Homo sapiens: one gene and its partners. The protein of the gene in region 3 purifies or fractionates together with the protein of the main gene of each other region. This does not show direct contact. Each region holds a gene or a part of one and is shown on either strand. Other genes may lie near its edges.

Region 1 (7,476 bases), about 110 Mb from region 3:
CATGTAATCAATGTATAAAATTATTGATGGCATATTTCACTTTCTTTTTCCATATTAAATTTTTAAAATCTAATGTGTCTCTTACACTTGAGTATGTCTTAATTCATATGCTAAATGTTAATCAGAAATAATTAATCCTTAATTAGCTTTAATAACATTTACAGTTAAGTAGTAGATTCACATACTCAAGTTATCCCAGATTTTAAAAGTTTTACAATAACTCAATGGAGTATCAGTTTGAAAATCCAGATTTAAATTCATTAAAATTAAAAATTGAGCTCCTCAGTTGGACCAGCTACATTGCAAGAGCTCCATAGTCACTTATGCCTAGTAGCTACCATGTTGGACAACGAAATTCTAATTAGTTGATCATTTTATGTGAATAGATTGAAAAAACAGTACAATTCAGTAAAATGTGTTTGGCTATAATATTTTAATCCCTTATTGCAAGTAGGTAGCAAATAAATGAGGAAAAATCATTGCCACTGGAAAATATGGTAACTGGGTTAATGCCAGGGCACTACTCAATGATACCCAGTAAACAGCTTTTGTAGCCCTTATTCTAAAGGACACACACTGAACATGTGGTCAGGTGAAAGGAAACAGAACAATAGATGTGTCCATTATTACACTTTTCTGACTTTCACAGTCATGGTAAATAGCCTCGACGTTATAAGAATGGGATAAAAATCATATTCATTCTCAGATCTAGTAGAATTAAATATATAGTAAAACTGCCAAGTAAAGACTATCTATTTTGAAGAACTGACAGGTTGTTTAAATTAAGACAATACTTAAAGTATTAGAGGATACTTAAAAACTTAATATAATGTGAAAACAGTGGTTTAATGAAAACAAAATTCTTACGACAGCAAAATGCAGAATTTCGTCTTCGTTCAGTTCATTTTTCAATTTTCTGAATAAAGGTTGCATTGCTCTGCAAGGTCCACACCAGGCTTGGTAAACATCAATCACTAGAAGATGATGATATTTATGAAATAACAAAGTCTACCAATCTAGGATAGCAGTTATCCCAATCTGGAGCCATGGCCAGGGCAAAGGCACTGCAGGATTTCTTGGTCAAAGTGGGGACTCTAGAGGGACAGGGTGCCAGGAGGAGCTCCGGGTCAAACCCCAGGTGGCCAGACAGCCGGGGAGTCCTTATACCTGTTAAGCCTTTGTTCTGCAACATCTCATCCCACAGGCTTTGATTATTGATGACTGTCTGCAAAGTGGAAGGCACTGTAAAAGGTATTCAAGCACTAGTGCACCAGATAAAGAATTGTTGATATGTCAGACCCACCTGTAACTGGACTTCTCGTTTTTTGCTTGCCATTTATCTACTATCATAGGAAAAAGAAAGAAAAATTTTTAAGTAGGAAATTTAAATAACATTTTCTTTATGCATGCAAATAACATCTTTTAAAACAATTTTTAATTTTTGTGGGTACATAGTAGGTGTATATATTTATGTATCTCTGTATTTATGTACTTAAATATTTGTGTATTTAAATCTGAGATATTTTGATACAGGCATGCCATGCATAATAATCACATCAGGGTAAATGGGGTATCCATCACCTCAAGCATTTATCCTTTGTGTTACAAACAATCCAATTATACTCTTTTAGTTATTTTAAAATGTACAATTTAGATTTTTTGACTGCAGTCACCTGTTTGTGCTAGCAAATACTAGGTCTTATTCATTGTTCTTTTTTTTTTTTTTTTTTTTTGAGACATAGTCTCACTCTGTTGCCAGACTGGAGTGCAGTGGCACAATCTGGGCTCACTGCAACCTCCGTCTCCTGGGTTCAAGCGATTCTCCTGCCTCAGCCTCCAGAGTACCTGTGACTACAGGCACCCGCCACCACGGCGGGCTAATTTTTTTTGTATTTTTAGTAGATACAGAATTTCACCGTGTTAACCAGGATGGTCTCAACCTCCTGACCCGTGATCCTCCCACCTCAGCCTCCCAGAGTGCTGGGATTACAGTATTCATTCTTTCTAACTGCAAATAACATCTTAATGTACTAGTGAAAAATTTCCCCACTGTACATTGGATTATGCAGTGTCATCTTTGCTGGGGAGAGAGAAGCTAATGTCATGGAAGGACTATTGTATGCTAGGCTCTATGCTAAATGCTTATAGCTGCCACACTATCTTATCCTCCCAACAGTCCTGAAGCAAGGTAAGAATGTTAGGAGTTACACGTCGTCTGGTTTTTTTAAAGGTTTTGTTTTCCTGAAATATTAGAAAGTGTTTCCTATATTATCAATTGCAAACAAATGAACATGCCCGTGGATCTTTCTGGGGTCCCTCTTCAGATCTGGCTGCTCTAAGGATATTTAATCTTGAGAACAAGGCCACTAGTGTTTTCTGGGGCACGACATAAACTTCTCAAACTCCCTATTCAGTGGTATCAGGGGCGGTGTAGAACAGGGGTCAGTCAGCGTGCGGGCGATAGTGCACGCTAGCGTACAACAAAGGAAAAGCCACAAACAAGACTGTATTCCAGGAAAGGTGCTGGTTGCTCCGGCAAGCCTTACACAAAACAGGTCCTCCTCTAAGCTAGACTGGGACGTTTAAAGAAAAGGAAGGAACAGGCCCAGAGGATCTAAATCGGCTCCCTCGTTGTGGCCGTTTGAGCGGTGACCTCGGCGAAGTTCCATTCCAGTACCTAGGACCCTGGTAGGGCCCGAGGCTGAGGCTAGCAGGCCTCCTGCTGGGCTTTCTTCTCCAGCTGATTCAGCAAAAGGAAGAAGAGGGATTCCCTGCCTGTCTGGGAAGAAGAAGGGGGGCAATGTTTTGTCCAACCCATCTGCCCGTGAGACTTGAGCGGCGTCTCGAGGCCCCTGCTCCAGACAGCAGCTATACCTGGGCAGTGGGGACAAGACCAGGTGGCGCCTAAAATCCTCCACCTCTTCTGCCCACACAATGAAGGAACAACGAAGTCCTGGTTCCACCATCACAAGACTCTGTTCTTCAGCTGCCTCATCCCCAAACTCCCATCCCCCATCCTCCCATCCCTACGTTCCTCTATCCCCAGATGCGCACCAAGGTGCGCTTTCCCAAGTGCAGATTTGATCATATCTCTCCTCGCCTTTGAATCCTCCTGTGACTGGCCACGCTTTACAGCATAAAATGCATACACCTCAAATCGGAGCAGAAGGCTCTCTGCCAGCACCAGCCTTTTCTTTCTTTTTAACTTTGTCTTCATCTACCCTGGTTTGGTTCTTCTTGTTCTTCTTGTTCTTCTTCTTCTTCTTCTTCTTCTTCTTCTTCTTCTTCTTCTTCTTCTTCTTCTTCTTCTTCTTCTTGTTCTTCTTCTTCTTCTTCTTCTTCTTCTTCTTCTTCTTCCTTCTTCTTCTTCTTCTTCTTCTTCTTCTTCTTCTTCTTCTTCTTCTCTTCTTCTTCTTCTTCTTCTTCTTTCTTCTCTCTTCCTCTTCCTCTTCTTCTTCGTCTTCCTTCTTCTTTTCTTCTTCTTTTCTTCTTCTTCTTCTTTTCTTCTTCTTTTCTTCTTCTTCTTTCTTCTTCTTCCTTCTTCTTTTTCTTCTTCTTCTTTCTCTTCTTCTTCCTCTTCCTCTTCCTCTTCTTCCTCTCCCTCTTCCTCCTCCTCCTCCTCTTCCTCCTCTTCCTCCTCCTCCTCCTCCTCTTCTTCCTCCTCTTCCTCTTCTTCTTCTTCCTCTTCTTCTTCCTCTTCCTCTTCTTCCTCTTCCTCTTCCTCTTCTTTCTTCTTCTTCCTCTTCTTTCTTCTTCTTCTTCCTCTTCTTCTTCTTCTCCTTCTTTCTTCTTCTTCTTCCTCTTCCTCTTCTTCTCCTCCTCCTTCTCCTTCTCCTTCCTCTTCTCCTTCCTCTTCTCCTTCCACTTCTCCTTCCTCTTCTCCTTCCCCTTCCCCTCCTTCTCCTCCTCCTCCTCCGTCTCCTCCGTCTCCTCCATCTCCTTCATCTCCTTCTTCTTCTTCTTCTTCTCCTTCTCCTTCTCCTTCCTCTTCTCCTTCCTCTTCCCCTCCTTCTCCTCCTCCTCCGTCTCCTCCATCTCCTTCTCCTTCTCCTTCTTCTTTCTCCTTCTTCTTCTTCTTTCTTCTTCTTCTTTCTTCTTCTTCCTCTTCCTCTTCCTCTTCTTCTCCTCCTCCTCCTTCTCCTTCCTCTTCTCCTTCCACTTCTCCTTCCTCTTCTCCTTCCTCTTCTCCTTCCTCTTCCCCTCCTTCTCCTCCTCCTCCTCTGTCTCCTCTGTCTCCTCCGTCTCCTCCGTGTCCTTCGTCTCCTTCGTCTTCTTCTTCTTCTCCTTCTCCTTCCTCTTCTCCTTCCTCTTCTCCTTCCTCTTCCCCTCCTTCTCCTCCTCCTCCTCCGTCTCCTCCGTCTCCTCCGTCTCCTCCGTCTCCTTCTTCTTCTTCTTCTTCTTCTTCTTCTTCTTCTTCCTCTTCTTCTTCCTCTTCTTCTTCTTCCTCTTCTTTTTCTTTCTTTCTCTTTCGTTCTTTTTCTCTTTACTTTCCTTCCTCCCTCCCACTTGCAGCATCTGGAAATAATTTTTCACAATAGTTTCTGATTAATCCACAGGCTGAGATACAGAAAGCAACTGTAGAGTAGAGAGGGACACAATGAACCTTTTTGTAGGGATCCTCATCCCTGGAGTGGACCTAATAGATGAGCACGGCTACCTACAGAAGGATTTTTGACCAGGATCATATCCTATCAAGACAGGACATGTAGTACTCCTTCACTTCACCATCTGCAATTTTCTTTCCTTTTTTTTTTTTTATTATACTTTAAGTTCTGTGATACATGTGCAGAAAGTGCAGGTTTGTTACATAGATATACACATACCATGGTGGTTTGCTGCACCCATCAACCTGTCATCTACATTAGGTATTTCCCCTAATGCTATCCCTCCCCTAGCCCCCCACCCCCTGACAGGCCCCAGTGTGTGATGTTTCCCTCCCTATGCCCACGTGTTCTCATTGTTTAACTTCCACTTATGAGTGAGAACATGCGGTGTTTGGTTTTCTGTTCTTGTGTTAGTTTGCTGAGAATGATGGTTTCCAGCTTCATCCATGTCCCTGCAAAAAACATGAACTCGTCGTTTTTTATGGCTACATAGTATTCCATGGTATATATGTGCCACATTTTCTTTATCCAATCTATCGTTGATGGGCATTTGGGTTGGTTCCAAGTCTTTGCTATTGTGAATAGTGCTCCAATAAACATACATGTGCATGTGTCTTTATAATAGAATGATTTATAATCCTTTGGATATATACCCAGTACTGGGATTGCTGGGTCAAATGGTAACAAAAGCCAAAATTGACAAATGGGATCTAATTAAAGAGCCTCTGCACAGCCAAAGAAACTATCATCAGAGTAAACAGGCAACCTAGAGAATGGGGGAAAATTCTTGCAATCCATCTATCTGACAAAGGGCTAATATCCAGAATCTACAAGGAACTTAAACAAATTTACAAGAAAAAAACAAACAGCCCCATCCAAAAGTGGGCAAAGGATATGAACAGACACTTCTCAAAAGAAGATATTTGTGAGGCCAACAAACACATGAACAAAAGTTTTTCATCACTGGTCATTAGAGAAATGCAAATCGAAACCACAATGAGATACCATCTCACACTAGTTAGAATGGCGATCATTAAAAATAGTCAGGAAACAACAGATGCTGGAGAGGATGTGGAGAAATAGGAACGCTTTTACACGGTTGGTGGGAGTGTAATTATTTCAACCATTGTGGAAGACAGTGTGGCGATTCCTCAAGGGTCTAAAACCATCTGCTATTTTCAAAGAAGTTTTATGTATTTCCTATAATTGCTATTTCACCAGAGTCAGACTGTTAGTAAACTGACTTTTGATTCTTCTTTGATTCAACACAATAGTTCACATGGTGAAATGCTCATGCAAATATTTCAGGCAAATTCTTCATATAACACTTTGATGCAAGAAGTTTCAATGTATTCTCAAATTAGAACAAACATTTACCAGTGGCCAATACATGGAAGGAAGGTGTAATTAGTTTTTTTTGTTTTTTTGTTTTTTTACATCATTACTACTAATTGCAAAAACTTTGAATGTTGAGGCTTTAAAACATAAACCTGAAGAGCCTTTGACTTGGGTCTGCCCAGAATTGACTTTAAGGGCAAATTCTCTGAAAATGTTGGTTACAAGACAATGTATATTTTATTATAGGAGAGTGTAAGCTATAACTGCCAAAAAGCCTATGAGAGATGTTACTTTTGAAGGGACCTAATAGTTTGTTTTGCTCCTTAAATATATTTGACTTTATCTTTCAACATTCATTAAAGGTACTCTCTTATATTGACCTGCCTTTTCTTACCCTCACACAGCACTATGTATAGTGCTCAATTTGCTTTCCTTGGGGCACAAGTTTATTAGTGCCTAATTGTTTCATTTGTGTGTTCTCATGACTTCTAAATATATATGAAGACCCAGAAAATAAGAACTGGATTGTAGAATTGTTTTCGCTTTGCTCTCTTCCTCTTGAAATCCTCTCTGGCACCTAGCATCACCATTTTTGCATAAACACTTTAAAATTAGATAGCAAGCTAGTGCATTTGGAAATAGCAGATATTCTTGACACATTTATGTACTCTTTAATGAAGATAAACAAAATTCTTAATTTTTGAATCCAAGAAATCTGTCTGGTGATTTCTCAAAGAATTTAAAATGGAGAGAGCTACAATTTGACCCAGCAATCTTATTGGATATACACCCAAAGGAAAGTAAATTACTCTACCAAAAAGACAATGCATTCATATGTTCATCACTGAGCTATTCACAATAGCAAAGACATGGAATCAATCCAGGTGCTCATCAATGGTACACTGGATAAAGAAAATGTGTATATAAACATATACACCATGGAATACTACGCAGCCATTAAAAAGAATGAAATCATATCCTTTGCAGCAACATGGATGCAATTAGAGGTTATAGTCTTAAATGAATTAATGTGGGAACAGAAAACCAAATACTGCATGTTGTTCCTTGTAAGTGGAAGCTAAACACTGAGCACACATGGACATAAATATTGGAACAATAGACCTGCAGATTACTATAAGTGGGAGACAACGAGGGAGACGTGGGTTGAAAAACTACTTACCAAGTACTATGCTCATTACCTGAGTGATGGGATTTGTACCCAAAACCTCAGCATCATGCAATATTCTCATGCAATAAATCTGCACGTGTACCCCTCATTTCTAAAATAAAAGTTGAAAAATATTTTTAAAGTTTAATAAAATAAAGACACAATGCTTAAAAAAAGAAGAAATCTGGTCCAGGTAATTAAGTAGACTATAAAGAAAATAAATGGTATAGGGACTTACTTTAATTTTATCACTTCAGCTAGAGATAGAAGTAAGCTAGTCATCTATCCAGGAGAACTTTATATAACTTTTAAAAAATTTCTCCTATCTCCACTAGATCAAAATCACGGATTCTGAATTCCAATTTT
Region 2 (7,024 bases), on a different chromosome or scaffold from region 3:
TGTGGATGCAGCCCGAAAGAGGGTGCTGCCGCATCCGGATCCTCGCCAGCATGGCACTCCAGAAAAGAAAGTAATGGCGGGGGTCAGGGGGGTGGTCAGAGACACAGGGGGTCCCCAGACTGCCTAGCACATACATACATACCACTGGGGACAGTACAGAGGGGAGCAGGTCCGCCAAGGTTAGAAACCAAGAGACACAAATATTGCACATTCAGTCAAGGCATTTCCAAGAGAGTCACAGAAATAACTCTCTCTGAGACACAACATAACACATTTGGCAACTTTCAAAGAAACAGCCTTCCCCACTCCAAGCCATCAAAGGGTCCATAAGTGCCTTCATCTTTGGTCCAGTTGAAAAAGCCAGGGAAGGAAGACAGGGTCAATGGGGAGTAAGAAGAGGCTGCAGGTGCAGTTCCTACAGCTCCCACTTGTCTGACTCAGTGCAGGATGCCGCCTGTCTCAAACCTCTTCTTGGAGGGAAAACAAGCTCTCCAGAGGGTCCCGGCTGCTGGAGAAAGGTGAGGCAAAGCTGCATGTGGTGGCAGCCGGGAGCCCCAAATCCAGAGCAATGATCACCAACCTCCAACCACAACAAAGGACACCCCATCCTCCCTTTCCTTGGAGGCTCTATTCATGGGAATGCGGGGTACTCTGGCAACTCTATGCTTTACCTAAAACCTCAATTCGACAAACTGCAGCTAGAACCCTTTGCATCTGCTGCACGTCTTGGAGGGTGCATAGGAGGGACGGTGTTCCGAAGCAGCTGCTAACGTCCATTGTGGCACACATAGGGTGAAACCATGGCACGGCACGGGAACAATCCTCTTGGCTCCAGCGTCCTTAAAGTACAGGCCATTTCCAAGGAGCTAGGCCTTCCGCCCTCATCCCCCAGATCCCCGAAAGGCTCCGACTGGGAACCCAGCCCAGCTGCTGTTGTAAAGATCTGTTCTAATACTGGCTAAGCAAATGAAAGCAGGTTTCTGAAAAGGTATTCTGCAGCCAGAAGTCGCACTGTCTTCGGAGTCCTGCAGGTGGGGAGGGAGTTCCTTTAGTTTTGACCAGAACACTTCTTCACAGGGGGCCAGGATCAGCTGTGCTTTGCAGTGGCTCGGTCACTGGACAGGAGTGAGGTTTCACTTCACAGAGGGGCTCTGCTGACTGCTCTCCTGAAGGTCTGGAGTTTTCGGGGTCTTAGTTTACATCCGCGATCCTCTCTCCTGAAGAATCTGAAAGTTGGAGATGGGGGAGAGGCTGAGGCTGCTGAGGGAAAGACAGAGATGTCGGGGGATGCTTTCCACTGGACCCGATGAGTGGCATGATGGTCCTGTCATCCCAGGAAGCAAGCAGGGGTGCAGCCGCAGCCTCACCCGCAGTGCTTCTGGTGCGAAACACTCTCTTGCTGGGCACAGCTGGGTCTAAAGCTTATATGCTGTTGGACCAAAGCTTTGCCAACTGAAAGGAAGTGGTTCCAGCTTACCTGGTATCCACGATTTAGAAGCTGTGTGTGTGTGTGTGTGTGTGTGTGTGTGTGTGTGTGTGTGTGTTGGGGGTGAGGGGGGTGCACAGTGGAGGGAAAAGAAACAGTTTTCCAGGAACTTAAGGGAGGTAAAGGTCACCAAGGTAAGAAAACACCCTTTTCTCCTGAGGCAGTGAAAAAAGCACAGTTTTAAAGAATAAATCAAAATACCTTCCAAGTCTGAGTTCAGAAATCCTACCCTGTAGTAATTAGTGGCAACCAGCTTTTCTTTTTCATTGATTTGGCAGAGGATGGAGAAAGTCTACCCTTTTTAGGTTCATATTTTCTAACTAAAAACACCTGTCAGTGCTCCGTAAATCCCAATTAAATTACAACAGTCAAAAATAACAAAACGAGGGGAAAATGCAACGCTGGCTCTAGAAGGCCAGGGAAGAAGTGAGGAGCAAGAGTTCAGGAAAAGCCCACGGAGGGGGTGCGAACAAGCAAGCCAGAGGCAACTGCCCAGGGAAGGGGCTCCTTACCTTCGCCTTTTCGCTCGGCTCTATGACGATGCCATTGGTAGAATTATTTAGTTCTCTGGAGACAACACAGAGGAATTCTGCCTGATCCTCATTGCCGTAGTTATAGGAAGATCCGATGCTGATGAGCTGATGAACCAAGAATACAGTGAACATTCATGTGGCAATCTTAACATACTTTCGAAAGTGCTACACAAATCACCCCTCTTCCGACTGAACTTTTAAGTTATCAAAGGTTTAACTCTTTATATGAGTTCTCTGTGACTACCAAAGCCCCCGGGGAGAAATGGGCCTGTTCTTCATCAGGGCATCATTGGTGAGGCCTCCCCAGGAGGAAGAGTATGAGCTCCACTGTCCCCTCACCCAAGCTCTGAAGTCCCCCCCCGTCAGCGGCAGGATTAACATGCCCACGCCCCGTCGAGCACAGCAAGGGAAGACAGAACGCATCTGCCAACAAAATGGACATTTGCCTCAGTCACACACACAGCTGGCTCCTCTATCAGCAGAAGCCCTAGACTGGGGACAGGAGGCTCTGGAAAGCACCGAGCCAATCACTGATCAGCTACTGGAAGTCATATGCTGCTGGTACTTTTTATTTCCAGACAGGGTCTAGCTCTGTCACCCAAGCTGGAGTGCAGTGGTGCAATCACAGCTCACTGTAGCCTCCACCTCCTGGTCTCAAGTGATCCTCCCACGTCAGCCTCCTGAGTAGCTGGGACTACAGGGACTACAGCCACCATGCCTGGCTAATTCTTTTATTTTTGATAGAGAAGGGGGGTCTCGCTATGTTGCCCAGGCTGGTCTCCGAACTCCAGGACTCAAGCAATCCTCCCACCGTGGCCTCCCAAAGTGCCGAGATTACAGGTGTGAACCACCGTGCCCAGCATGCTGGTACTTTTAACCTTTTTGGATAATAGAATTCAGAATTTAATTCTAAAGAGGAAATACACACGCAGGGGAGCAGCTCAGGCAGAGGGTGAGGGCATCCCAGTGAGCAGGCGAGGCCTCACATGGGCGGCATGGCTGACTGTGGTAGGATGGGGCTGGGGGCGCCTCCGCCTGTCTGAAACAAACTTCCTCATCCAGAAGGGAGGCAATAGGAACACCCTCCGTCTTCCCACGGGACAGTAATAAGATGAGAAATTAACAAGAAATTATTCATTTTAGTTTCACAAAGAATACATTAAAAAAATCCTTTGCTTAAGAGCTCATATTAGGAAAAATACTTCTGGAGTGGAGGGCATTAAACTCTTGGCGACGTTTTACAACCCATGCCCAGTAAGAACCAGGATGACAGACACAGGCAGAGTGGATTCCGTGGTGGAAGCTAAGTGTGAGAAATAATCACCGCTGGCTCTGAAGGCAGAGACAGCTTTGCACTTGATCTGTGAGATAACAGCATTAATGCAAAGTGTGAGTTTTCTTTTAGAAGGTAAGCATCTGGTGAGACAGCTGTTGACCTGTTAAAACTCTACACATAAGTAGGCATAATCCGTATAAAATCATATTTACTCAGGCGGTTGATCCCAGGGTGGCGAGTGGCGGCGACCGAGACCCTGAGTGCAGCCTGACCCGCCCTCGCACGCGCGCCCTCCCTGGCCGGGCCCACTCGCCACGCGCCCAGCCATGAACCTGGCGAGCCAGAGCGGGGAGGCCGGCGCCGGCCAGCTGCTCTTTGCCAACTTCAACCAGGACAACACAGAAGTGAAAAGGGCATCAAGAGCAGCTGGTCTTGGCTGTCGCGCTGTTGTCTGGTTAGTTCCAACCCTGGTTTCTGAAAGTATCACCTTGGAAGGCTTATGTTAGAGGACTTTTTTGGCTTTTTGAAATTGAAGTGAACCAGTTAATAAGTGGCAGAGGATCACTTGAATGTGAAATAGAAATATCAAGGACTACATTTTTCCAGTGGACACCACAGCTTGTGGGAAGTTAGTGATGTAGCAATGTCTGTTTTAAATGCCATGTCTAAAAGGGATGGAATGAAGAAAGGGATTTGACTTTCCAAAAAAAAAAAAAATTGTATTTACTCTATTCGCTCTGGCCTTCCTATGTTTTGAAGGCAACAGAATTTAACAAGTCTGCCATCTAATGGAGGAGAACAGTGAAGCTCCAACTGTCATAGCTTTGTTTTGATAGCTCAGTCGTAAGCACGAGGCGGAGAGAAGTAGGGGAAACGGCCGCACCACACTTCCCATGGCGCCTGATCCTTCCTAGCACAGCTGTTCACCAAGCTCTTCACGGTGGATTACATAAGACATTCAGAACCAAAAAGTTCTGACCCTGGGAAAAGAAATGGAAGGATTGTTGTCGAATCCCAGTCTCCTTTAGGGACTCATTCTACGATCCCTGTGAGGGAACAAAAACCAAAGGCTTTGAGGCACTTCAAGCCTAAACTGCTCGTTGGCTCCCCTGGAAAGTCTGCGTGTGAAGCTAAGACATGATGCTCCTCTGTTTCCCCAACTCCTCACGCACCACTAGGCCAGCAGTGCCCACCAAATGGCTCTTTGCCCATGTTTTGGAATAGGATCCCACCTGGCCGTAGCCGTCTCCCGTGGTTATTAATTGGCCATCCACACTGATTGTTTGAAGAGCTGCAGACCCCTTGAACGGGGCCTGGGATTGCTGCTCTGTTAAGAGATGTACCTGTTCGAATTTCCAGCCGTCGGACATCGTGGACACCATCTGCGTGAGCTCTTCTTCCTGACACTGCAGGACTCTGTACACGTGCTTCACGGGGCCCTGCAATGACCAGGCGCAGACTGAGAACAGCACCAAGGACACCACAGTTTGCAGCTGCCCCAAGGAGGCTCTTCAAATGAATAAACACTGAAAAGGAGTTTGCTTGGAAATCTTTTCTTGGCAGCCACCCACTATCCCCTTTTACAAATAGTACTGTGGCGTTTCTTTTTTTCCCTTCTCTTTAAAAAATGTTTTTCTTTTTAAGTGACCACAAGCCAGCATACTGTGGCTTTTCAATAAAAACATATCCAAAGAGTGAAAGAATAAAAAAGGTAAAATAATTCTGAACTTCAGAGGGATGAATGCTTGAGCAACTATGCCAACAAACTTAGATTTAATCCATTTCCCCAAGTCAAAAATAAGGTAAAATTATTATTATTTATTATTATTATAATTTTATTTATTTATTTTTGAGACGGAGTCTCGCTCTGTCGCCCAGGCTGGAGTGCAATGGTGCAATCTTGGCTCACTGCAGGCTCTGCCTCCCAGGTTCACGCCATTCTCCTGCCTCAGCCTCCCAAGTAGCTGGGACTACAGGCACCCGCCACCACGCCCGGCTAATTTTTTGTATTTTTTAGTAGAGACGGGGTTTCACTGTGTTAGCCAGGATGGTCTCGATCTCCTGACCTCGTGATCCACCCGCCTCGGCCTCCCAAAGTGCTGGGATTACAGGCATGAGCCACCGCGCCCGGCCTATTTATTATTATTTTTTAAGACACAGTCTCACTCTGTCGCCCAGGCTGGAGTACAGTGGCGCGATCTCAGCTCACTGCAACTCCGCCTCCCCGGTTCAAGCGATTCTCCCGCCTCAGCCTCCCGAATAGCTGGGATTACAGGCGCCTGCCGCTAAGCCTGGCTAATTTTTGTATTTTTAGTAGAGAAGGGGATTCACCATGTTGGCCAGGCTTGGTCTTGAACTCCTGACCTCATGATCCACCTGCCCTGGTCTCCCAAAGTGCTGGGATTACAGGCATGAGCCACCGCACCCAGCCTTATTATTATTTTTGAGATGGAGTCTCGCTCTGTTGCCCAGTCTGGAGTGCAGTGGGGTGATCTTGGCTCACTGCAACCTCCACCTCCCTGGTTCAAGCGATTCTCCTGCCTCAGCCTCCCGAGTAGCTGGGATTACAGGCATGTGCCACTACGCCCAGCTAATTTTTTATTTTTTTTTCCTTTTTTTTTTTTGAGAGAGTCTCGCTCTGTCGCCCAGGCTGGAGTGCAATGGCACCATCTCAGCTCACTGCAATCTCCGCCTCCCGAGTTCAAGCGATTCTCCTGCTTCAGCAGCCTCTTGAATAGCTGGGATTACAGCCGCCCACCACCACGCTTGGCTAAGTTTTGTATTTTTAGTAGAGACGAAGTCTCACCATGTTGGCCAGGCTGGTCTCAAACTCCTGACCTCAGGTGATCCGCCCGCCTTGGGCCCCCAAAGTGCTGGGATTACAGGCATGAGCCACTGTGCCCAGCCAATTTTTTTGGATTTTTAGTGGAGACGGGATTTCGCCATGTTGGCCAGGCTGGTCTTGACCTGAGGCGATCCACCCACCTAGGCCTCCCAAAGTGCTGGGATTACAGGCATGAGCCACTGTGTCCGGCCGACAATGCTGTATTTTTTCTTCTATGTTTTCTTCCAAAAGAGGTATAACGATCGCCGGGTGCAGTGACTCACGCCTATAATCCCAGCACTTTGGGAGACCGAGGTGGGCGGATCATCTGAGGTTGGGAGTTCAAGACCAGCCTGGCCAACATGGTGAAACCCCATCTCTACTAAAAACACAAAAAATTAGCCAGGTGAGGTGGCACGTGCCTGTAATCCCAGCTACTCGGGAGGCTGAGGCGGGAGAACTGCTTGAACCCCGGAGGCAGAAGTTGCAGCGAGCTGAGATCGCGCCATTGCACTCCAGCCTGGGCGACAGAGTAAGACTCTGCCTCGAGGAAAAAAAAAAAAAAAAAAGAGGTATAGCTATCATTAACCAAAGTACTAAGGATTTCAAAGATTTCCTTCCATATTACATATAGTACAAATCCTCTGAAGATTTTAATTGGTTGTAACCACTTATTTTGGAAACCAATTGTATAAGTACAAAATTCAGAGTATCACAAAAGATCTGTGATGTTGGCCACAGCTGTCAAAGTCCCAGGTATTTAAGATGCCATTATACTGCCTCTTTTTTCTCCCTTCCAAAGTAAACCACTTGTGCTCTCAAATGCACCAGGATCAATCACCTACAAAAAATACTATTCTAAGAAATAGGAGTCTGGGTATGGTTGCTCACGCCTGTAATCCCAG
Region 3 (7,280 bases):
GCACCCGCTTGTGGGCAACTAGCTGGTCCCACTGGGCAAAGCTCCGGCCACAGTTGCCGCATATGAAGGGCCGGGCCTCCGGGGCGGGAGGGTGGCACCGCCGCAGATGAGCTCGAAGCTGCTTTCGTCGCCAGAAGCGTCTCTCGCATTTGGGACAAGCGATGGGCCGCTTTGCAGCTGAATGGGCCCGCAGATGCAGAACCAGGGCCACCCAGCCTCGGAAGCTCTGCCCACAGAGGTGGCAGGCAAAGCCCAGGTCTGGGGTGGCAGCAGCATGGACCTGGCGGTGCAGTGCTAAGAAGGGGGCATGGCGAAAGCGACGGCCACACTCAGGGCAGGGCAAGGGCAGCCGGGCCTGGCACCGGCGGGTGTGAAGCCACAGAGCCACCCAGCCAGGGAAGTGCCTTCGACAGTGGGCACAGCGATGGGCCCTGCCTGGGGCTTGGGCACCAGACTGGGCCACTGACGTGCCTTGTTGCCTCAGCCCGCGGGACTCCTTCCCCAGGGTCTGGGGTGACTCCTGGGAGGGCCCAGAAAGGAGTCGGGGCTGGGCCAGGCCCATGGCCAGGGGGCCCCTGCAACGACGTTCCAGCATCGGTTCTTCCTCTGCTGAGGGTGGAAAAGCACAGTCACTCCAGAGACCAACTCACTCTGCCCCTGTTTCTCCCCTCCCAACCTCAGCCCCGGACAGGAGCTGCCATCTATGAACCCCTAGAGCCCCGGACATGGAGCTAGACTACTCTCCTGTTTCCTTGTGTGGTATGTATTATTTCAATCTTGGGTTTTTAGATAACATTTCAAGGATGTTTGTCTTATGTCTTTGTTGCCCTGGAAACTTCCAGAAGGGAGGGACTCTGATACTAGAATCCCCCTCATGGCAGCTACCCCAGTGTCAGACAGGGAGTAAATGCTCCAGTGCTGAATGCACAAACATTCCTGCCACAGGACTCACCAGAAAATGTGGCCACTGCTCCCTACAGTGCCTTATGCTGCCCTCTCCCTGTGTCTGCTGTTTCCTATGCCACATCCGAGCTGCACAGCAACTCTGAGAAGCTGGACAAACAGACACTGAGCTCCCTGTTTAACAGATGAAGCAACTGTGAGACATCAAAGATGACGAGACCTGCCCAAGGTGACACAGTAAGCCAACAGCAGAATCAAGACTAGGGAACAGGTCTTTAAACTCCCAGGCCAGTGTTCTTTCCTCTAAAGCGCCTGGGTTTGCAAAGATCTCAGAGAAAAAGGTGTCTATAGCTTTTCATTCCTAGCCCCACAGGGGAGGCACTTTCAGCATCACTAACTGCAGTCTCCGTAGGAGGCTGGAGGACAAGTGAGAACAGCCCTTCTCGGGGAACAGGAGCAGAGCCCTGGGTGCTACTCCCGGCAGTCTAACGCCAGACCACCGCCTGCCCAGACTGTGCCCCCATTCTGCCCGCCTGCCCTCTTCCACCCACACAAATTAGGACATTGCAGGAAGGAAGGCTCTCCCTGAATCCAAGGAACACCCACAGCCTGCTGCCCTCGGGGCCTGATCACCGGCTCTGCCTCCCTCGGGGTGCTGGAGATTACTGGGGCAATAGAAGGGGAGGGAAGATGAGACTGCAATCTCAGTCCCCTGCCCGGTCCTGCCCCAACCTCGCCAGGGGCTGCCCCATGTTCAGCTCTTCCACAGCTCAGGGGAGCCCAGATTCCTGCACAGGAGCCTCCTCCGCGGAAGGAGGAAGGAAGCAGTTAGGCTCCTAAGGGCCCTTCTGTGCCTGCTCACAAGCTCCAGACACATCCTTCTAAATTCCCTAGAGCGCACTCTCTCTTCTCAGGGAACACAAAGGTCACTCATTCCCAGTGTCAGACTGTGCACAGGGAAGACCCCAGGATATGAGAAAGGGCCATTTCCTTCCGCCGGGATGGGGACGCCCGTGCACCCCTGTTGTGGCGTGGTTTGGGAGCACAGCAAAGGCCAGACTCTACCCTGGAGACTGCAGAGCTGGGGATGAGGCTTTTTCCAGCTCCTCTTGGGGATGTTCCTGGGGATACTTCCGCGGCTGCAGCGCCTGCTTCGGCCCACACTCCGGTAGCCCCCAGGTGTTAGAGAAAACTGCAGTAATAAAGACACCCCTATCCCCATGGCAGAGCTCAGACCTCTGACTGCAGAGAGGCCAGCCTTACCTGTGGGGAGGGAAGAGAAAACAGAAGTGAGGCTCTGAGCTCCTCTAGGGCAGTCAGCTTTGTGTCCTCACCAGCCACAACCCCTCCCCCCACAAAGCCACACGCACCAGCCATAAGCCCCACATCCTGCCTGGCAGAGTGACCTTAATGGACATTGGATTAATAAATGAATGTGCCCCTTCAACAAGGAAGCACACTGCTGTCTTTCGGGGTCACTTTCTTCCCTGGTAAGGTCACGGAACGAATTCTCCATTCTGTGGCCAGAGTCTGGGCTTTCCCTGATGGCCAAAGGCCGGCCTATGGCAGGAACTCTGGAATCCCTGCTGGCTCCCCTTCCCCCAGCCTCCTCCCGACAGGAATTCCAGGCCTATTTCCCATGGGGCTGCGCAGGGCCAGCTGGTGTGACCACGACTCCGTCAGAATCCCCTTCCGCATCGCGGCTGGCCGCGGGTGGCAGAAGCCCCACACCGCCCTTTTGTACTGATGCGTGTCCTCCGTCCACGCTCCCGGGCACACGGGTCCCGTTCTTGCGAGTGAGCCATTTCGGGTCCCACGCACGGCGCAGCTCGCGGAGCCTGTGCGCAGGTGCGCTCCCCCACCCCCGCAGATCCAGCAGCGTCCCCCCCCGCGCACTCACACACGGTCGCGCACACTCACGGTCACGCGCCCCGCAGGTGGAGCGGCCCCCCGCGGGCCCGCGGTGGCCCCGCGCCCCTGCCCCGGCCGTACCTCTGCGGCGGGCTGTGCAGGGACGCGGCGCCCGTCCATGGAGCCCGAAGGCCGGCCTCCGCGGCCCACTCTCGCTCCCCGCCCCGCCGCGGCGACAGCGGCAGGTTCGAGTTCACAACTGCCAGGCCCGTCCCCAACCTCCCCCCGCCGGGTTCCCAGCGCCACGTGACTACAGGAGCTGCCGAGGGTCAGTCGCCGGCTCCCGCGGCCGCGGCCTGGGGGCGGGGAGGGACTGCCGGGGCCGGGGCGCGGGCGCCCCCGCCAAGAGCGGGCCGGGTCACTCAAGCCACTGCCGCGCCAGGGCGGCAGGCCTCGGAGGGTCGGACTCCGTTGCCATGGCGACCACCAGCCCGGGTTTCTCTGGGACTGGCCGGAGCTCAAGTTTCCCGACCCTTTGTCCCTGCGGAGCACGCGCGTCCCCGGGCGACCGCGTGGCTGGCCTATGGTCACCGGGGTGTTCGGCCTTAGCTGCCTTATGAGAGGCTGGGAGCCCGTCGGGAGACTTCAAAGAGGGCTCCGGCAAGCCCCCGGAGCGTCGTTGCCCGGGCCTTTCTCAGGCCGCGCACCCCGGCCGCAGTGCGGACGCTTGCGGCCGCGGCGGTCCCGGGACGGCGGTGGCGCACCTGGAAGGCCCTAGCTTCCGATTTGTTCCAAAGTGGAGCACAAAAAGGCCCGATCCTGCGAACTTTGAAAAGGCCTCTCTTCACTCTTTTCTAGAAATTAAGAAAGAGCAGAAGTTGCTGGGCTTCCTCTGGCTGCGGGCCAAGCGTGGGGCGACGGCCGAGGTGGCCGTTGGCGCACGTGGGGCATTTCGCTTGGAAAGGCTCAGCAGCCTGTGTGGCGTCTGCGGTGGCAGGTGCGAGCCTGTGCCCATGACTCACCCACTAGCAGGTGGCCCTGGCTTTCCAAACTAAACACTTCCTGGGGTTTCCAGGGTAGTACAATTTCATGTACTTTCATGCTTTTCAACACAGGCAATTTTTGAATTGTATAATTAGTCGTAAAAATACTTTTTAAATCTATTGCATAAATAGGAAATAGGGGAACATAAAACTCAGTTTTACCTCGTAGAGTCAATTACATTTAATATTTTGGTATGTTGCCTCCGGTGTTTTCTCTACGTATATCCATGGCATGTCTGGCATAATTGGAATAATGCCTTGCGAAGATGTATTCTGCCTTCTTCACTTAACACGATCTTGTGAATTTTCTTCCATTTTATTAGATATTCTTTTAAACATGATTATTTATGGCTGTATAAAAGGAATATATTTTTTAAATGTTTTCTAAATTATCTTCCAGGAAAACGTATTAGTTTTCCCTGAGAAATGCCCATTTTCCATATACTTGACAACACAGACTTTTTTAAAAAAAAAATTTAGTTTGAAATGGTTATTTCTCATCTTTTGTACTTGCATTTCTTAGAGTACTAGTTAGCTGGATTGTTTTTTCACATGGTTATTTTTTGCCAGTTTTATTTTCTCTTGTGAATTTGTTTATGTCCATTTGCCCACTTTTCTATTTGCCCATTTTAAAAGTTGGGGAGTTGGTTTATTGTTTGGGGGGCACTCATAAAGTACAGGTATTAAAGACTTGTCATGTTTGTTGCAGACGTGTTTCCTCGTACTTGTTAACTTTTTTTTTTTTTTTTTTTGAGACAGGGTTTCACTCTGTCACCAGAGCTGGAGTGCAGTAGCACTATCATGGCTCACTGAAGCCAGGACTTCCTGAGCTCAAGCAATCCTCCCACCTCGGCCTCTGAGTAGCTGGGACTACAGGATCACATCACCACATCCAGCTAATTATTTTATTTTAATGTTTTTCTTCTGTAGAGATGGGGTCTCACTGTGTTGCCCAGGCTGGTCTCAAACGATCCTCCCGCCCCAGCCTCCCAAAGTGTTGGGATTACAGATGTGAACCACTGCATCCGGCCTACCTTTTCAGTTGTTGATGTGAGAAAGTTTTGCTTTAGTCTATGTGCTGCTGAAGCGAGCATAAGAAAGTTTTGTTTTATTTTTATTTTATTATTTATTTATTTATTTATTTATTTATTTATTTATTTATTTTGAGATGGAGTCTGGCTTGTCTCCCAGGCTGGAGTGTAGAGGGAGGTGTGATCTCGGTTCACTGCAAGCTCCGTCTCATAGGTTCTCGCCATTCTCCTGCCTCAGCCTCCCGAGCAGCTGGGACTACAAGTGCCCGCCACCACGCCCAGCTATTTTTTTGTATTTTTAGTAGAGACGGGGTTTCACTGTGTTAGCCAGGATGGTCTCGATCCCCTGACCTCGTGATCTGCCCGCCTTGGCCTCCCAAAGTGCTGGGATTACAGGCATGAGCCACCGTGCCCGGCGAGAAAGTTTTGTTTTAATGTGCCAAAACTTAGCAGTCTTCCTTTATGGTTTCTGCCTTTAGAGTTATGTTTAGAGAGGCTACCCGCAACCTAAAACTACATTGAATGTCTGCAGTTTTATCACAGAAAATAAGTTTTGGTAGCTGGTAGTTTAAGTACTTCCCCTACACAAAGATTCTGGGTTTTTTTATTCTTCATAACTTCTTGGCTAGAATCACTTCATTTATTCTTCCAAACTGACATGGAGCCGGCACCCCTCTTACAGGCCTGCAGGAAGTGGGGAGGGGGCAAGCATGGAAATAAAGGAAAATCTTGAATTCCTTCAAGGGAAATTCCAGGCACCCAGCTAGCAACCTAATAAACAAGAAGGTAACTGTAGCTTAAAACAAGGAAGTTACAGTCACAAAATGTTTGGTTCCCTATAGAAACTAAAGATAACATCTTAATATATGTCCCTGAGTTGCTCTTCAGAAACCTGGGCCCCCCTCCCAAGTGGATGCCCTGGCCTGCAGACCTCAGACAAGAGGGAACTGAGGACTAAGCTCTGCTGTTCTTTGTTCTAAATTTCTTCCTGAGGATCCTGATGGAAGTTGGACCAGACCTGAACATTCCTTTCTGCTAACCCCAAGGTTTTAGGCAAAGCTTTGCTTCCTTAACTTATCACAAATCAGAGTCTTTGAATTCATGTATGACCTTTAAGGCTCCTCCTTCAAAATACCCTGCCCTTTGAGGCTAAACCAGTGCATAACCTCCATGTATCAATTCACGATTTTGCCCATAACTTCTCCTTTCCTGAAATTTACCCCTGCTTTTAAAAACACTTGCTTGTGGCCGGGCCCAGTGGCTCATGCTTGTAATCCCAGCACTTTGGGAGGCCGAGGTGGGCGGATCACAAAGTCAGGAGTTCAAGACCAGCCTGGCCAACACAGTGAAACCTCGTCTCTACTAAAAATACAAAAATTAGCTGGACGTGGTGGCAGGAGCCTGTAATCCCAGCTACTCGGGAGGCTGAGGCAGGAGAATCACTTGAACCCAGGAGGCGGAGGTTGCAGTGAGCCAAGATCATGCCACTGTACTCAAGTCTGGGCGGCAGAGCTAGACTCCGACTGGGGGAAAAAAAAAACCTTGCTTGTAAACCATCGAAGAGGTTGTATCTTAAGTATGACCCACTTCTCCTCGCTTGGTGCCCTGCAAATAAATGTGCTCCTTTCTCCGGATGCACAACCTCAGTGTTGGTGTTTCCTCTTACTGCGCCGGGCAAGTAGACCCCAGTTCAGTTTTGTAACAAAATGAACTTTAGAATTTCTTGTCAATGTTTTAAAAACGTGATTGTCTTTAAGATTCATTCTCTCCACTCCATTCATTCAGGTCTTATTTTACCTGTCCCAGTCAAGTTGACTAATCTGTACATTAACTACTTAACTTTTATACTTTTTTTTTTTTTTTGAGACAGTGTCTAGCTCTGTCACCCAGGTTGGAGTGCAATGGTGCAATATCAGCTCAGTGCAACCTCCGCCTCCCAGGTTCAAGTGATTCTCCTGCCTCAGCCTCCCTAGTAGCTGGGATTACAGGCACGCACCACTACACCTGGCTAATTTTTGTATTTTTAGTAGAGATGGGGTTTTGCCATGTTAGCCAGGCTAGTCTTGAACTCCTGAACTCCTGACCTCAGGTGATCGGCCCACCTTGGCCTCCCAAAGTGCTGGGATTACAGGTGTGAGCTACCGCACCCAGCCCAACTTTTATACTTTATAAAATAAAATTCACAAATATGAAAAAAGTCTTTGTCATATCATATAGTTTGGGGGTTCTGAAAATATGGTTATAGCATATTGTGGAATATAGGCCAAGTTTAGTAGTTACGGAAGAATGAATTTTTCTACCAACAGTACAATAAGAAGATGCTCCAGTTTTTACCTAAATACTTAGTAATTTATTAGTTAACATTTTGGGAGGCTTTACTTTGTGTCAGGCATGGTGATAAACTCCTCACATACATATCTCATTTAATCCACTCAACAACCCTATGCAATAC
Region 4 (7,024 bases), on a different chromosome or scaffold from region 3:
AGACCCAAATAACTAATCAGAAAAATCAAAGATGTGATACTCTTTTTTATGCCATGCATAGGTGTTATACTTGGATGAAATGAACAATATTGGGATCTCTAAGGATAAAGGTCTTAAAAGTCCTGAGGTAAAGAATCCTGCACCCATTGGTACTTCTAACTTGTCTTGCTTTTTGTCTGATTTCTGGCTGATGCAGGGGACTAACTCACTGCCACTCTAAAACTACCTGAACCAAACTATGACATCTCACCTGATATGTAAGATGCAATTGTTATAATTATTTTAAACCTCAATTTAGCATTAACTAGCCTTTTCATGTAAACACTTACACATGATGATGACTAGAAACAGCATACTCTCTGGCTGTCTGTCCAGATAGATCTTGAGAAGATACATCAACATTTTGCTCAAGTAGAAGATTGACTATACTTGCTGATCCACAACATACAGCAAGTATGAGGGCAGTTCTAAAATTACAGAGATAATTTCTCCTTTAGGAACTGTAATAAAGTTATTTTAAAAGCTAATTTGATATACTTTACCAATTTGACATCTTGCCTGTCCATGCAGAATCAAACATTTACATGCGCTAAAAGACATAAGCATCTTGGGTGCTCAAGAGTTCATCTTTGTAAAATACCACCAAGGTTAAAAGGAAGGGACAAAAAGGAAACCTCTTATCTCAGTGGGGTATTGCATAGCAGAAGCTACTAATTTAAAGTCCTTTGATGGGCAAGAAACAATGCTAGGGCCACTTATCTGAAGTGGACAAAGATTTAAGTGAAGATTTTGTCACAGCTTCCCTAGACTGATATGCTGTAATAGAAAATTAGCTAGGGGCTAAGATAAATAAGAGCTCTCTGCATGCTGAAAGCAGTAATATTAATAATAATGGTAAGAATAGTAGTCACAGGAGTTTCAGTTAATGATGCCAATAAGCATGTGCTATGCACTGAATTAAATGCCACATGTACCTTTCTTGCTTATGCACAGCCAACTTTGAAGGATATATTCTCCTACTTTTCACATATGACAACATATTGGGTGGTAAATCACGTTCCCAATGTCACACACGTAGCAAGTAAGAAAGTTAGGAATTAAACCCAGTCTTGTGTGAATCCAAAGCGTAGCTCTTTTCTCTTTATCACCCACCTACAGCTTGCCTTCATTAAAGGAAAAGTGTATCCACTTAAAACTATCTTCACTCCCTCTCTCCATACCAACTAAAAATAAAAACATCAAAATACACTGGAAATAAAAAAGGAAAAAAGCTGTTGAACCCACAGTATGTGGGAATAGCAATTAATTGTCATGTAGGGATAAGCTAACATTAATATTCTTCAAAGAAAGCAACTTAAAGCAGAGTCATTGAAAAGACAAAAGGATTTTCAACTCCTATTTATGTTTAATACAGCATATTTAGTGGAAAAGCATATAAGATACAGAGGTTAAAACCTACTAGAAAGGGTTAAAAAGTTCAATACTGAGTCATAAAGTAAACTGAAAGTTAAAGTTCAAACTTCATAAAATTAATATGAAATCCCTTTAGCTAACATAAGATCATGTAACCAAAAACATCATACAACAAATAACATCAGTCAATATAATAAGAGAAGATGAATCCTACTAAAACAGTTCTTTATGTTGCCCAGTCCAAATAATTGCTTTTCTACTTAACTGATTTGTGTTGATACTGATCACTATGTCCCAATAAGTATAATTTGATCTTATTAATTTATTATTTATGACTTGAGTGACTGCTATCAATCTAGAACAACACACAGATTAAAAGAAATAACCATACCTTCCATATCTATCAAGTGCATTTAAATTAGCTTTTTTCTTGATTAAAAATTTCACCACTTCCTGTTTTTGTTCATGTACGCCAAGCAAAAGTGGTGTGAGGCCACACTGTAAAACAATATAAAACAAAAACAATATGTAATTCAAAAAATTATGTATCTCTCAACTGAACTAGAAGCTTATGGACTTACACTCACAGAAAGTAAATAAAATTTGGTCGCTTCCTTCTCACTCTTCTGTACTTTCCCACATGCCACTCCTTCCCTTGGAAACATCCCTTCTCTGCCTCACCACATTAAATCTGATCATCTCAAAAACTCACTTTAAACATTTACTGTTTCCAAGACTCTTTGTTTCTAAATGAGCATTTGGCATGGCACTTTTGGATGATTTTTTTTTTCATTTAAACAAAAAGCTTCTTGAGGGCAGGGGCTGTATCTTTTATCTCTATTATTATCCAATCCTAAGACAAAATTGTTGTGTATAAAGCAAGAATTTGAATGTAAAATATTTCTTTAGTTTCACATGTTTTACCAAAGTTCAAGCTCCAACATGCAATAAATATTGCTATTAATACTCACACTGCCCATTTCAAGAATTTTTTCCAACATTTATTCATTTAAAATCTATTTGTATTTAATTTTTCCAGATTGTTAACTAGATAGATAATCAGTTCATAGGATTACTGAAACTAAGAGATTTCCTATCTGTATTCTTAATAACTCCATGGTTTTGAGTGTTTAAACCTGCCATCCTGATTAAGCCAAAGCTCTACAAACTTAAGAGACATACTGGATAGCCCACAATATAGCTTCAATTGACAAAAAAGGTTTAGAATTTGCTACAATTCTGAGAAAACTCTGCTCTTAAAAACGACTTACTGACCTAAGCACTTGAATGATTGAACAAAGGGACACAAAGTCCTGAGAGAGCCATCCTCTACTTATTGGAAGACTACTCACTGCAAATTTCTAAAGACCTTCTGAATGGCAGTGAATAACTGATGGTAGAAAGGAAAAGGTATTATTCTGTAAGCTGATAGATAGTGCCAATAATATTTATTTTAATGTCCCAACGACAGAGATAAGTCAGACTAGGCCAGGAATGGTGGCTCACACCTGTAATCTTAGCATTTTGGGAGCCTGAGGTGGGTGATTCACTTGAGCCCAGGAGTTCAAGATCAGCCTGAGAAACATGGCAAAAACCTCATCTCTACTAAAAAAAAAAAAATACAAAAACAGATTGGAGGACCACCAGAGCTTAGGGACGTCAAGGCTGTGGTGATCTGTGACCGCACCACTGCACTCCAGCCTGGGGAACAGAGTGAGACCCCATCTCAAAAACAAACAAACAAAAATTTAGATTAATGTTATTGGAAAGGAAAGATTTAAAGGAATTAGCACATATCCAACTCCAACTCTTCTAGAAATATCTGAAGTTTCTGAGATATAAGAATTTACATATTACACTTATGTATTCAGTGGTTAAGCAGGAGTGTATCCGGATTTTGAGAAATTTGTTGTTGTTGTTGTTAGAGACAGGGTCTCATTATGTTGACCAGGCTAGACTAGAACTCCTAAGCTCAGGCAATCCTCCCACCTCAGCCTCCCTAGCAGCTGGGACTACAGCCATGCACCACCATGCCTGGCTTCAAGGAAACATTTTTAAACATACATATCCAGGCTTTATTAGACTTACTCTATCAAAATCTTCAGGGGAAAACCTAGACTTGAAGATTATTTAAAAATTTTCCTGAAGTAACTGGAATGCACAACTCTAGCTGGAAGCTAGTGCAATAGACAATTATTTCAGTCTCATCTCTCATCACATAAACAATTCCCTTTATCATTTGAGGATTTGGCCAAAAAGAGGAAAGAGTAGGAGAGAGACTCATTTGCTGAAAACACCACAAAATTTTCCCCGGTAAGAGTAGAACAAGGTCTAGTAAACTCAAAATCCAACCTGATCTTTTTACTTATAAGCCCCTTATCTCCCACCTTCCCATCAAGACATTCTAGAATTGAAAGCAGAGTTGAGACTCTAATTGGCCATTTCTACCAGAATAGGATACTAATTTGGTTAATTACTTGTTATTCCTTCTACTCAAGGGTTTCCCACTACATTACCACATATTCACTGCCAGTCTGGTTCCTCAGAGGCCTCCTAAAATTGATCTCTAGGCAGTTTACAACCCACTAACTCCCTCTCCCAAACTGAAAACTGTCATTCTCTAAAATGGAAAAGAACCCTGTCTCACCATATAAAGGAAACAAATGAATGAACAACAATAACAACACACACACACACACACACACACACACACACACACAAACAAAAACAAAAACAAAAACAAAAAAAAACCTCTTCATGGTCTTTTCCCCCATTACCTAATTTCCAAGTTGGCCTTGGTATTTCTGATTGCTGCATTTTTCCCTTTCCAATTCTGCCTCATGAGCAATCAGAAATATCTTAAGCCTTGCCACTGAGAGATACATCACCTCATATCTATTAGTGTTTTTTTAGGAATTTGCCAAAGTAGCAGGATTACTATTCACTGAAACATGTTTAAGTTTTCTTGGAGTTTTAATGTAAAACCTATTTCCAGGGCAAATTTTGTCATTTTACATTTGTTAGGGAAAAAAAAACTTGGCAGGGAAAAATTGAAAAAAAAAAAAGTATTACCTTTTACAAATTCAGTGTTTTTTTTTTTTAAAAAGCATTAACCACAAGTGCACTGAAAAAAACTGTACCCTCTAATGCTTCTTTAAAAGTAACAATATTTAAAATAAAGTCTTAGATAATTAAGTCATTTCAAAATATTTTCATTCAGGTTATGCTTGAGCTTCCAAATACGGAAAACTGGCCCTTACACAGGTCAATGTTAACACGAATGCATTTCAGTATTTTGAAGATAAAATTGGTAGATCTATACCTTGTTTTTTGATTCAATATCAGCACCATATAAGAGCAGTGCTTTGGCCATTAATTTATCTTCATTGTAGATAGCATAGTGTAGAGCGGTATTTCCATACTCATCTTGAATATTTCCATCAGCGCCATGTTCCAGCAACATTAACACACATTCATCTTCCTGGCATTGTACGGCCTGTCAGTATTAGACCAAAAACAAATTATAAGTCCTAGGAATTCAAAATAACATTCCACAGCTTTCACCAACTAGTTATATTTAAATGAGAAAACTCATTTTTATGCTATCTATTGAAATCAAACCCATCTCACGCTGATATAGTTGACTACTGCATACCTTTATCAGAGCTGTCCTTTTTTTGTTGTCAAGGACGTTAAGTTGACATCGTCTGTCCAGCAGGAGTTGTACTACTTCTGAATTTCCATTGGCAGAGGCCAAATGTAGAGCAGTCCTATGAGAGTGAGAAGACTTCAGGAAATTGTAGTGCACTAGCTAATGCCACATTAATGATTCATGTAGTTGCAAACACTGAATAGCCTATTACTCTGCCTTCAAAACAAACTCAATTTTCCTTTGAAGAAAGCACACTACTTATTACCTCTCATTAGTCACTGTATTAATGAAAGAGCAGCCTATTTGAATAGAAAGAGCATAGCTCTTGGATGACATTCAACTTGGGCTGGAATCCTACTTGAAGCTCTGTCGCTTCCTAGCTGTTGCTTAGCCTTTTTGTGTCTCAATTTCCTCATCAATAAAATGGGAATGAAAATAGTCAGTTTCTCAGAGGAAACCACTGTAATGCTTAAATAAGACTCTACACAAAATATAGAATAGTTCCTAACACAAATAACAGCTCAAAAATTGTAAGATATTATAATTTTTACTAATACCACTAAAGACAACATTTGAATTAAGTGAAACGATACAATTATACCTACACTTTCAGGTACATTTTAAAGATTACAGGTAGCGTTGTACTGTATTTTATTGAGTCTAAGATGATCATTGTCTCCATGTTTTAACATTTCTTACACTGAAATACCACTTATTAATTCATGATTTACTATAATTATAATTGGCAGCATTTAAATAATTTTCTTAGTGAGACATAAAATAATGGGGCATCATACAATCCCTGGTGCCTTACATTAAGTAGAATATGTTATAATATAACAGGTCTGGGGCAGTTCCAGTCAGATGACTAGCATTTAGATAAATTTTAGTTCTTAAAAGAACTATGGAATAAGAGGGCTGAGGTGAAAACAAAAACAATTTTCTAAAATAATCTATTTCTTACTTTGGTTTTCAAAAACTTTAAGCCAAAGAAATCTTGAAATTCAAATGAATAGCATGGGCTCATTTTTTTCAATACTTAGATTTATACAACGTATGTACATCAGATATTTCCAATCATTCATATTAGGATTTAAGACTGTTATAAATTTTCTCTTTTTAAAATGGATTTATGAAACTATTTGTGGAGCTTTTTTCAACTTTTACATTCGGGGATACAGGTGCAGGATGTGCAGGTTGGTTAACATAGGTAAACGTGTTCCAAGGGGGTTGGCTGTACAGATTATTTCATTACTCAGGTGTTAAGCCTAGTACCCGTTAGTTCTATTTCCTGCTTCTTTCCTTCCTCCCACCCTCCACCCTCTGATAGGCCCCAGTGTGTGTTGCTTCCCTCTAGGTGTCTGTGTGTTCTCCTCATTTAGCTCCCACCTATAAGTGAGACCATGCAGTATTTGGTTTTCTCTTCCTATGTTAGTTTGCTAAGGATAATGGCCTTCAACACCATCCATGTCCCTGCAAAGGACAGGCTCTTGTTCTTTCTTTTGTGGCTACATAGTATTCCATGCTGTTTATGTACCACATTTAAGTTCTTAAAACAGCTAAAACAGTGTTTACCCAAGTCTTATACATTTTCAAAAGGGCAGTTAAGGGTTATCTTTTACTATTTTCCACCTTCAGAAGTGCTTTTGTTTGAAAGGAGGGAGGAAAAGCTTCAATTGAGATTAAGTCCTAATGCCCCAATTTTGATTCTCTCAGCTTGCTCAGGCGCAGCAGGTAAACATGAAGTTTTCAAAGGTGGAAGGATCCTGAGAGATAGCAGAATATGCTTGCCATATAATAGGTGTCTGGCTTATGTTTGATGACTAAACGGATTGAAAGAATGGATAAACATAGGTTGGAAGTTCAATATTTTTAAAAGAAAACTCCTGTTGAGTAGAGCAATACATTTGCGATAGTAACAATCATTTATATTTGCTATTTTAGTTTTCATAAATATAT

Evidence for each region.
Region 1: the proteins of REPIN1 (region 3) and NME8 purify together in Homo sapiens (affinity purification with mass spectrometry; 2 studies listed by BioGRID and IntAct, with this or other methods). This does not show direct contact.
Region 2: the proteins of REPIN1 (region 3) and KCTD2 purify together in Homo sapiens (affinity purification with mass spectrometry; 2 studies listed by BioGRID and IntAct, with this or other methods). This does not show direct contact.
Region 4: the proteins of REPIN1 (region 3) and POTEB2 purify together in Homo sapiens (affinity purification with mass spectrometry, with the first as the bait; 2 studies listed by BioGRID). This does not show direct contact.

What each region holds. Positions count from the first base shown.
Region 1 is NC_000007.14:37,844,127-37,851,602, reverse strand, and holds the start of NME8 (thioredoxin domain-containing protein 3), read right to left. Parts: upstream 3,007-7,476; 5' UTR 2,875-3,006; intron 2,780-2,874; 5' UTR 2,547-2,779; intron 1,344-2,546; 5' UTR 1,337-1,343; coding exon 1,304-1,336; intron 1,226-1,303; coding exon 1,168-1,225; intron 975-1,167; coding exon 868-974; intron 1-867. UniProt on the Homo sapiens protein: Probably required during the final stages of sperm tail maturation in the testis and/or epididymis, where extensive disulfide bonding of fibrous sheath (FS) proteins occurs.
Region 2 is NC_000017.11:75,057,220-75,064,243, reverse strand, and holds part of KCTD2 (BTB/POZ domain-containing protein KCTD2), read right to left. Parts: intron 4,735-7,024; coding exon 4,639-4,734; intron 2,125-4,638; coding exon 1,999-2,124; intron 1,227-1,998; coding exon 1,197-1,226; 3' UTR 1-1,196.
Region 3 is NC_000007.14:150,364,557-150,371,836, reverse strand, and holds the start of REPIN1 (DNA-binding protein REPIN1), read right to left. Parts: upstream 3,016-7,280; 5' UTR 2,935-3,015; coding exon of another isoform or gene 2,896-2,934; exon of another isoform or gene 2,804-2,895; intron 2,748-2,803; exon of another isoform or gene 2,167-2,747; 5' UTR 2,126-2,166; coding exon 1,969-2,125; exon of another isoform or gene 610-1,968; coding exon 1-609. UniProt on the Homo sapiens protein: Sequence-specific double-stranded DNA-binding protein. Binds ATT-rich and T-rich DNA sequences and facilitates DNA bending.
Region 4 is NC_000015.10:20,856,307-20,863,330, forward strand, and holds part of POTEB2 (POTE ankyrin domain family member B2), read right to left. Parts: intron 5,184-7,024; coding exon 5,069-5,183; intron 4,910-5,068; coding exon 4,736-4,909; intron 1,912-4,735; coding exon 1,805-1,911; intron 468-1,804; coding exon 330-467; intron 1-329.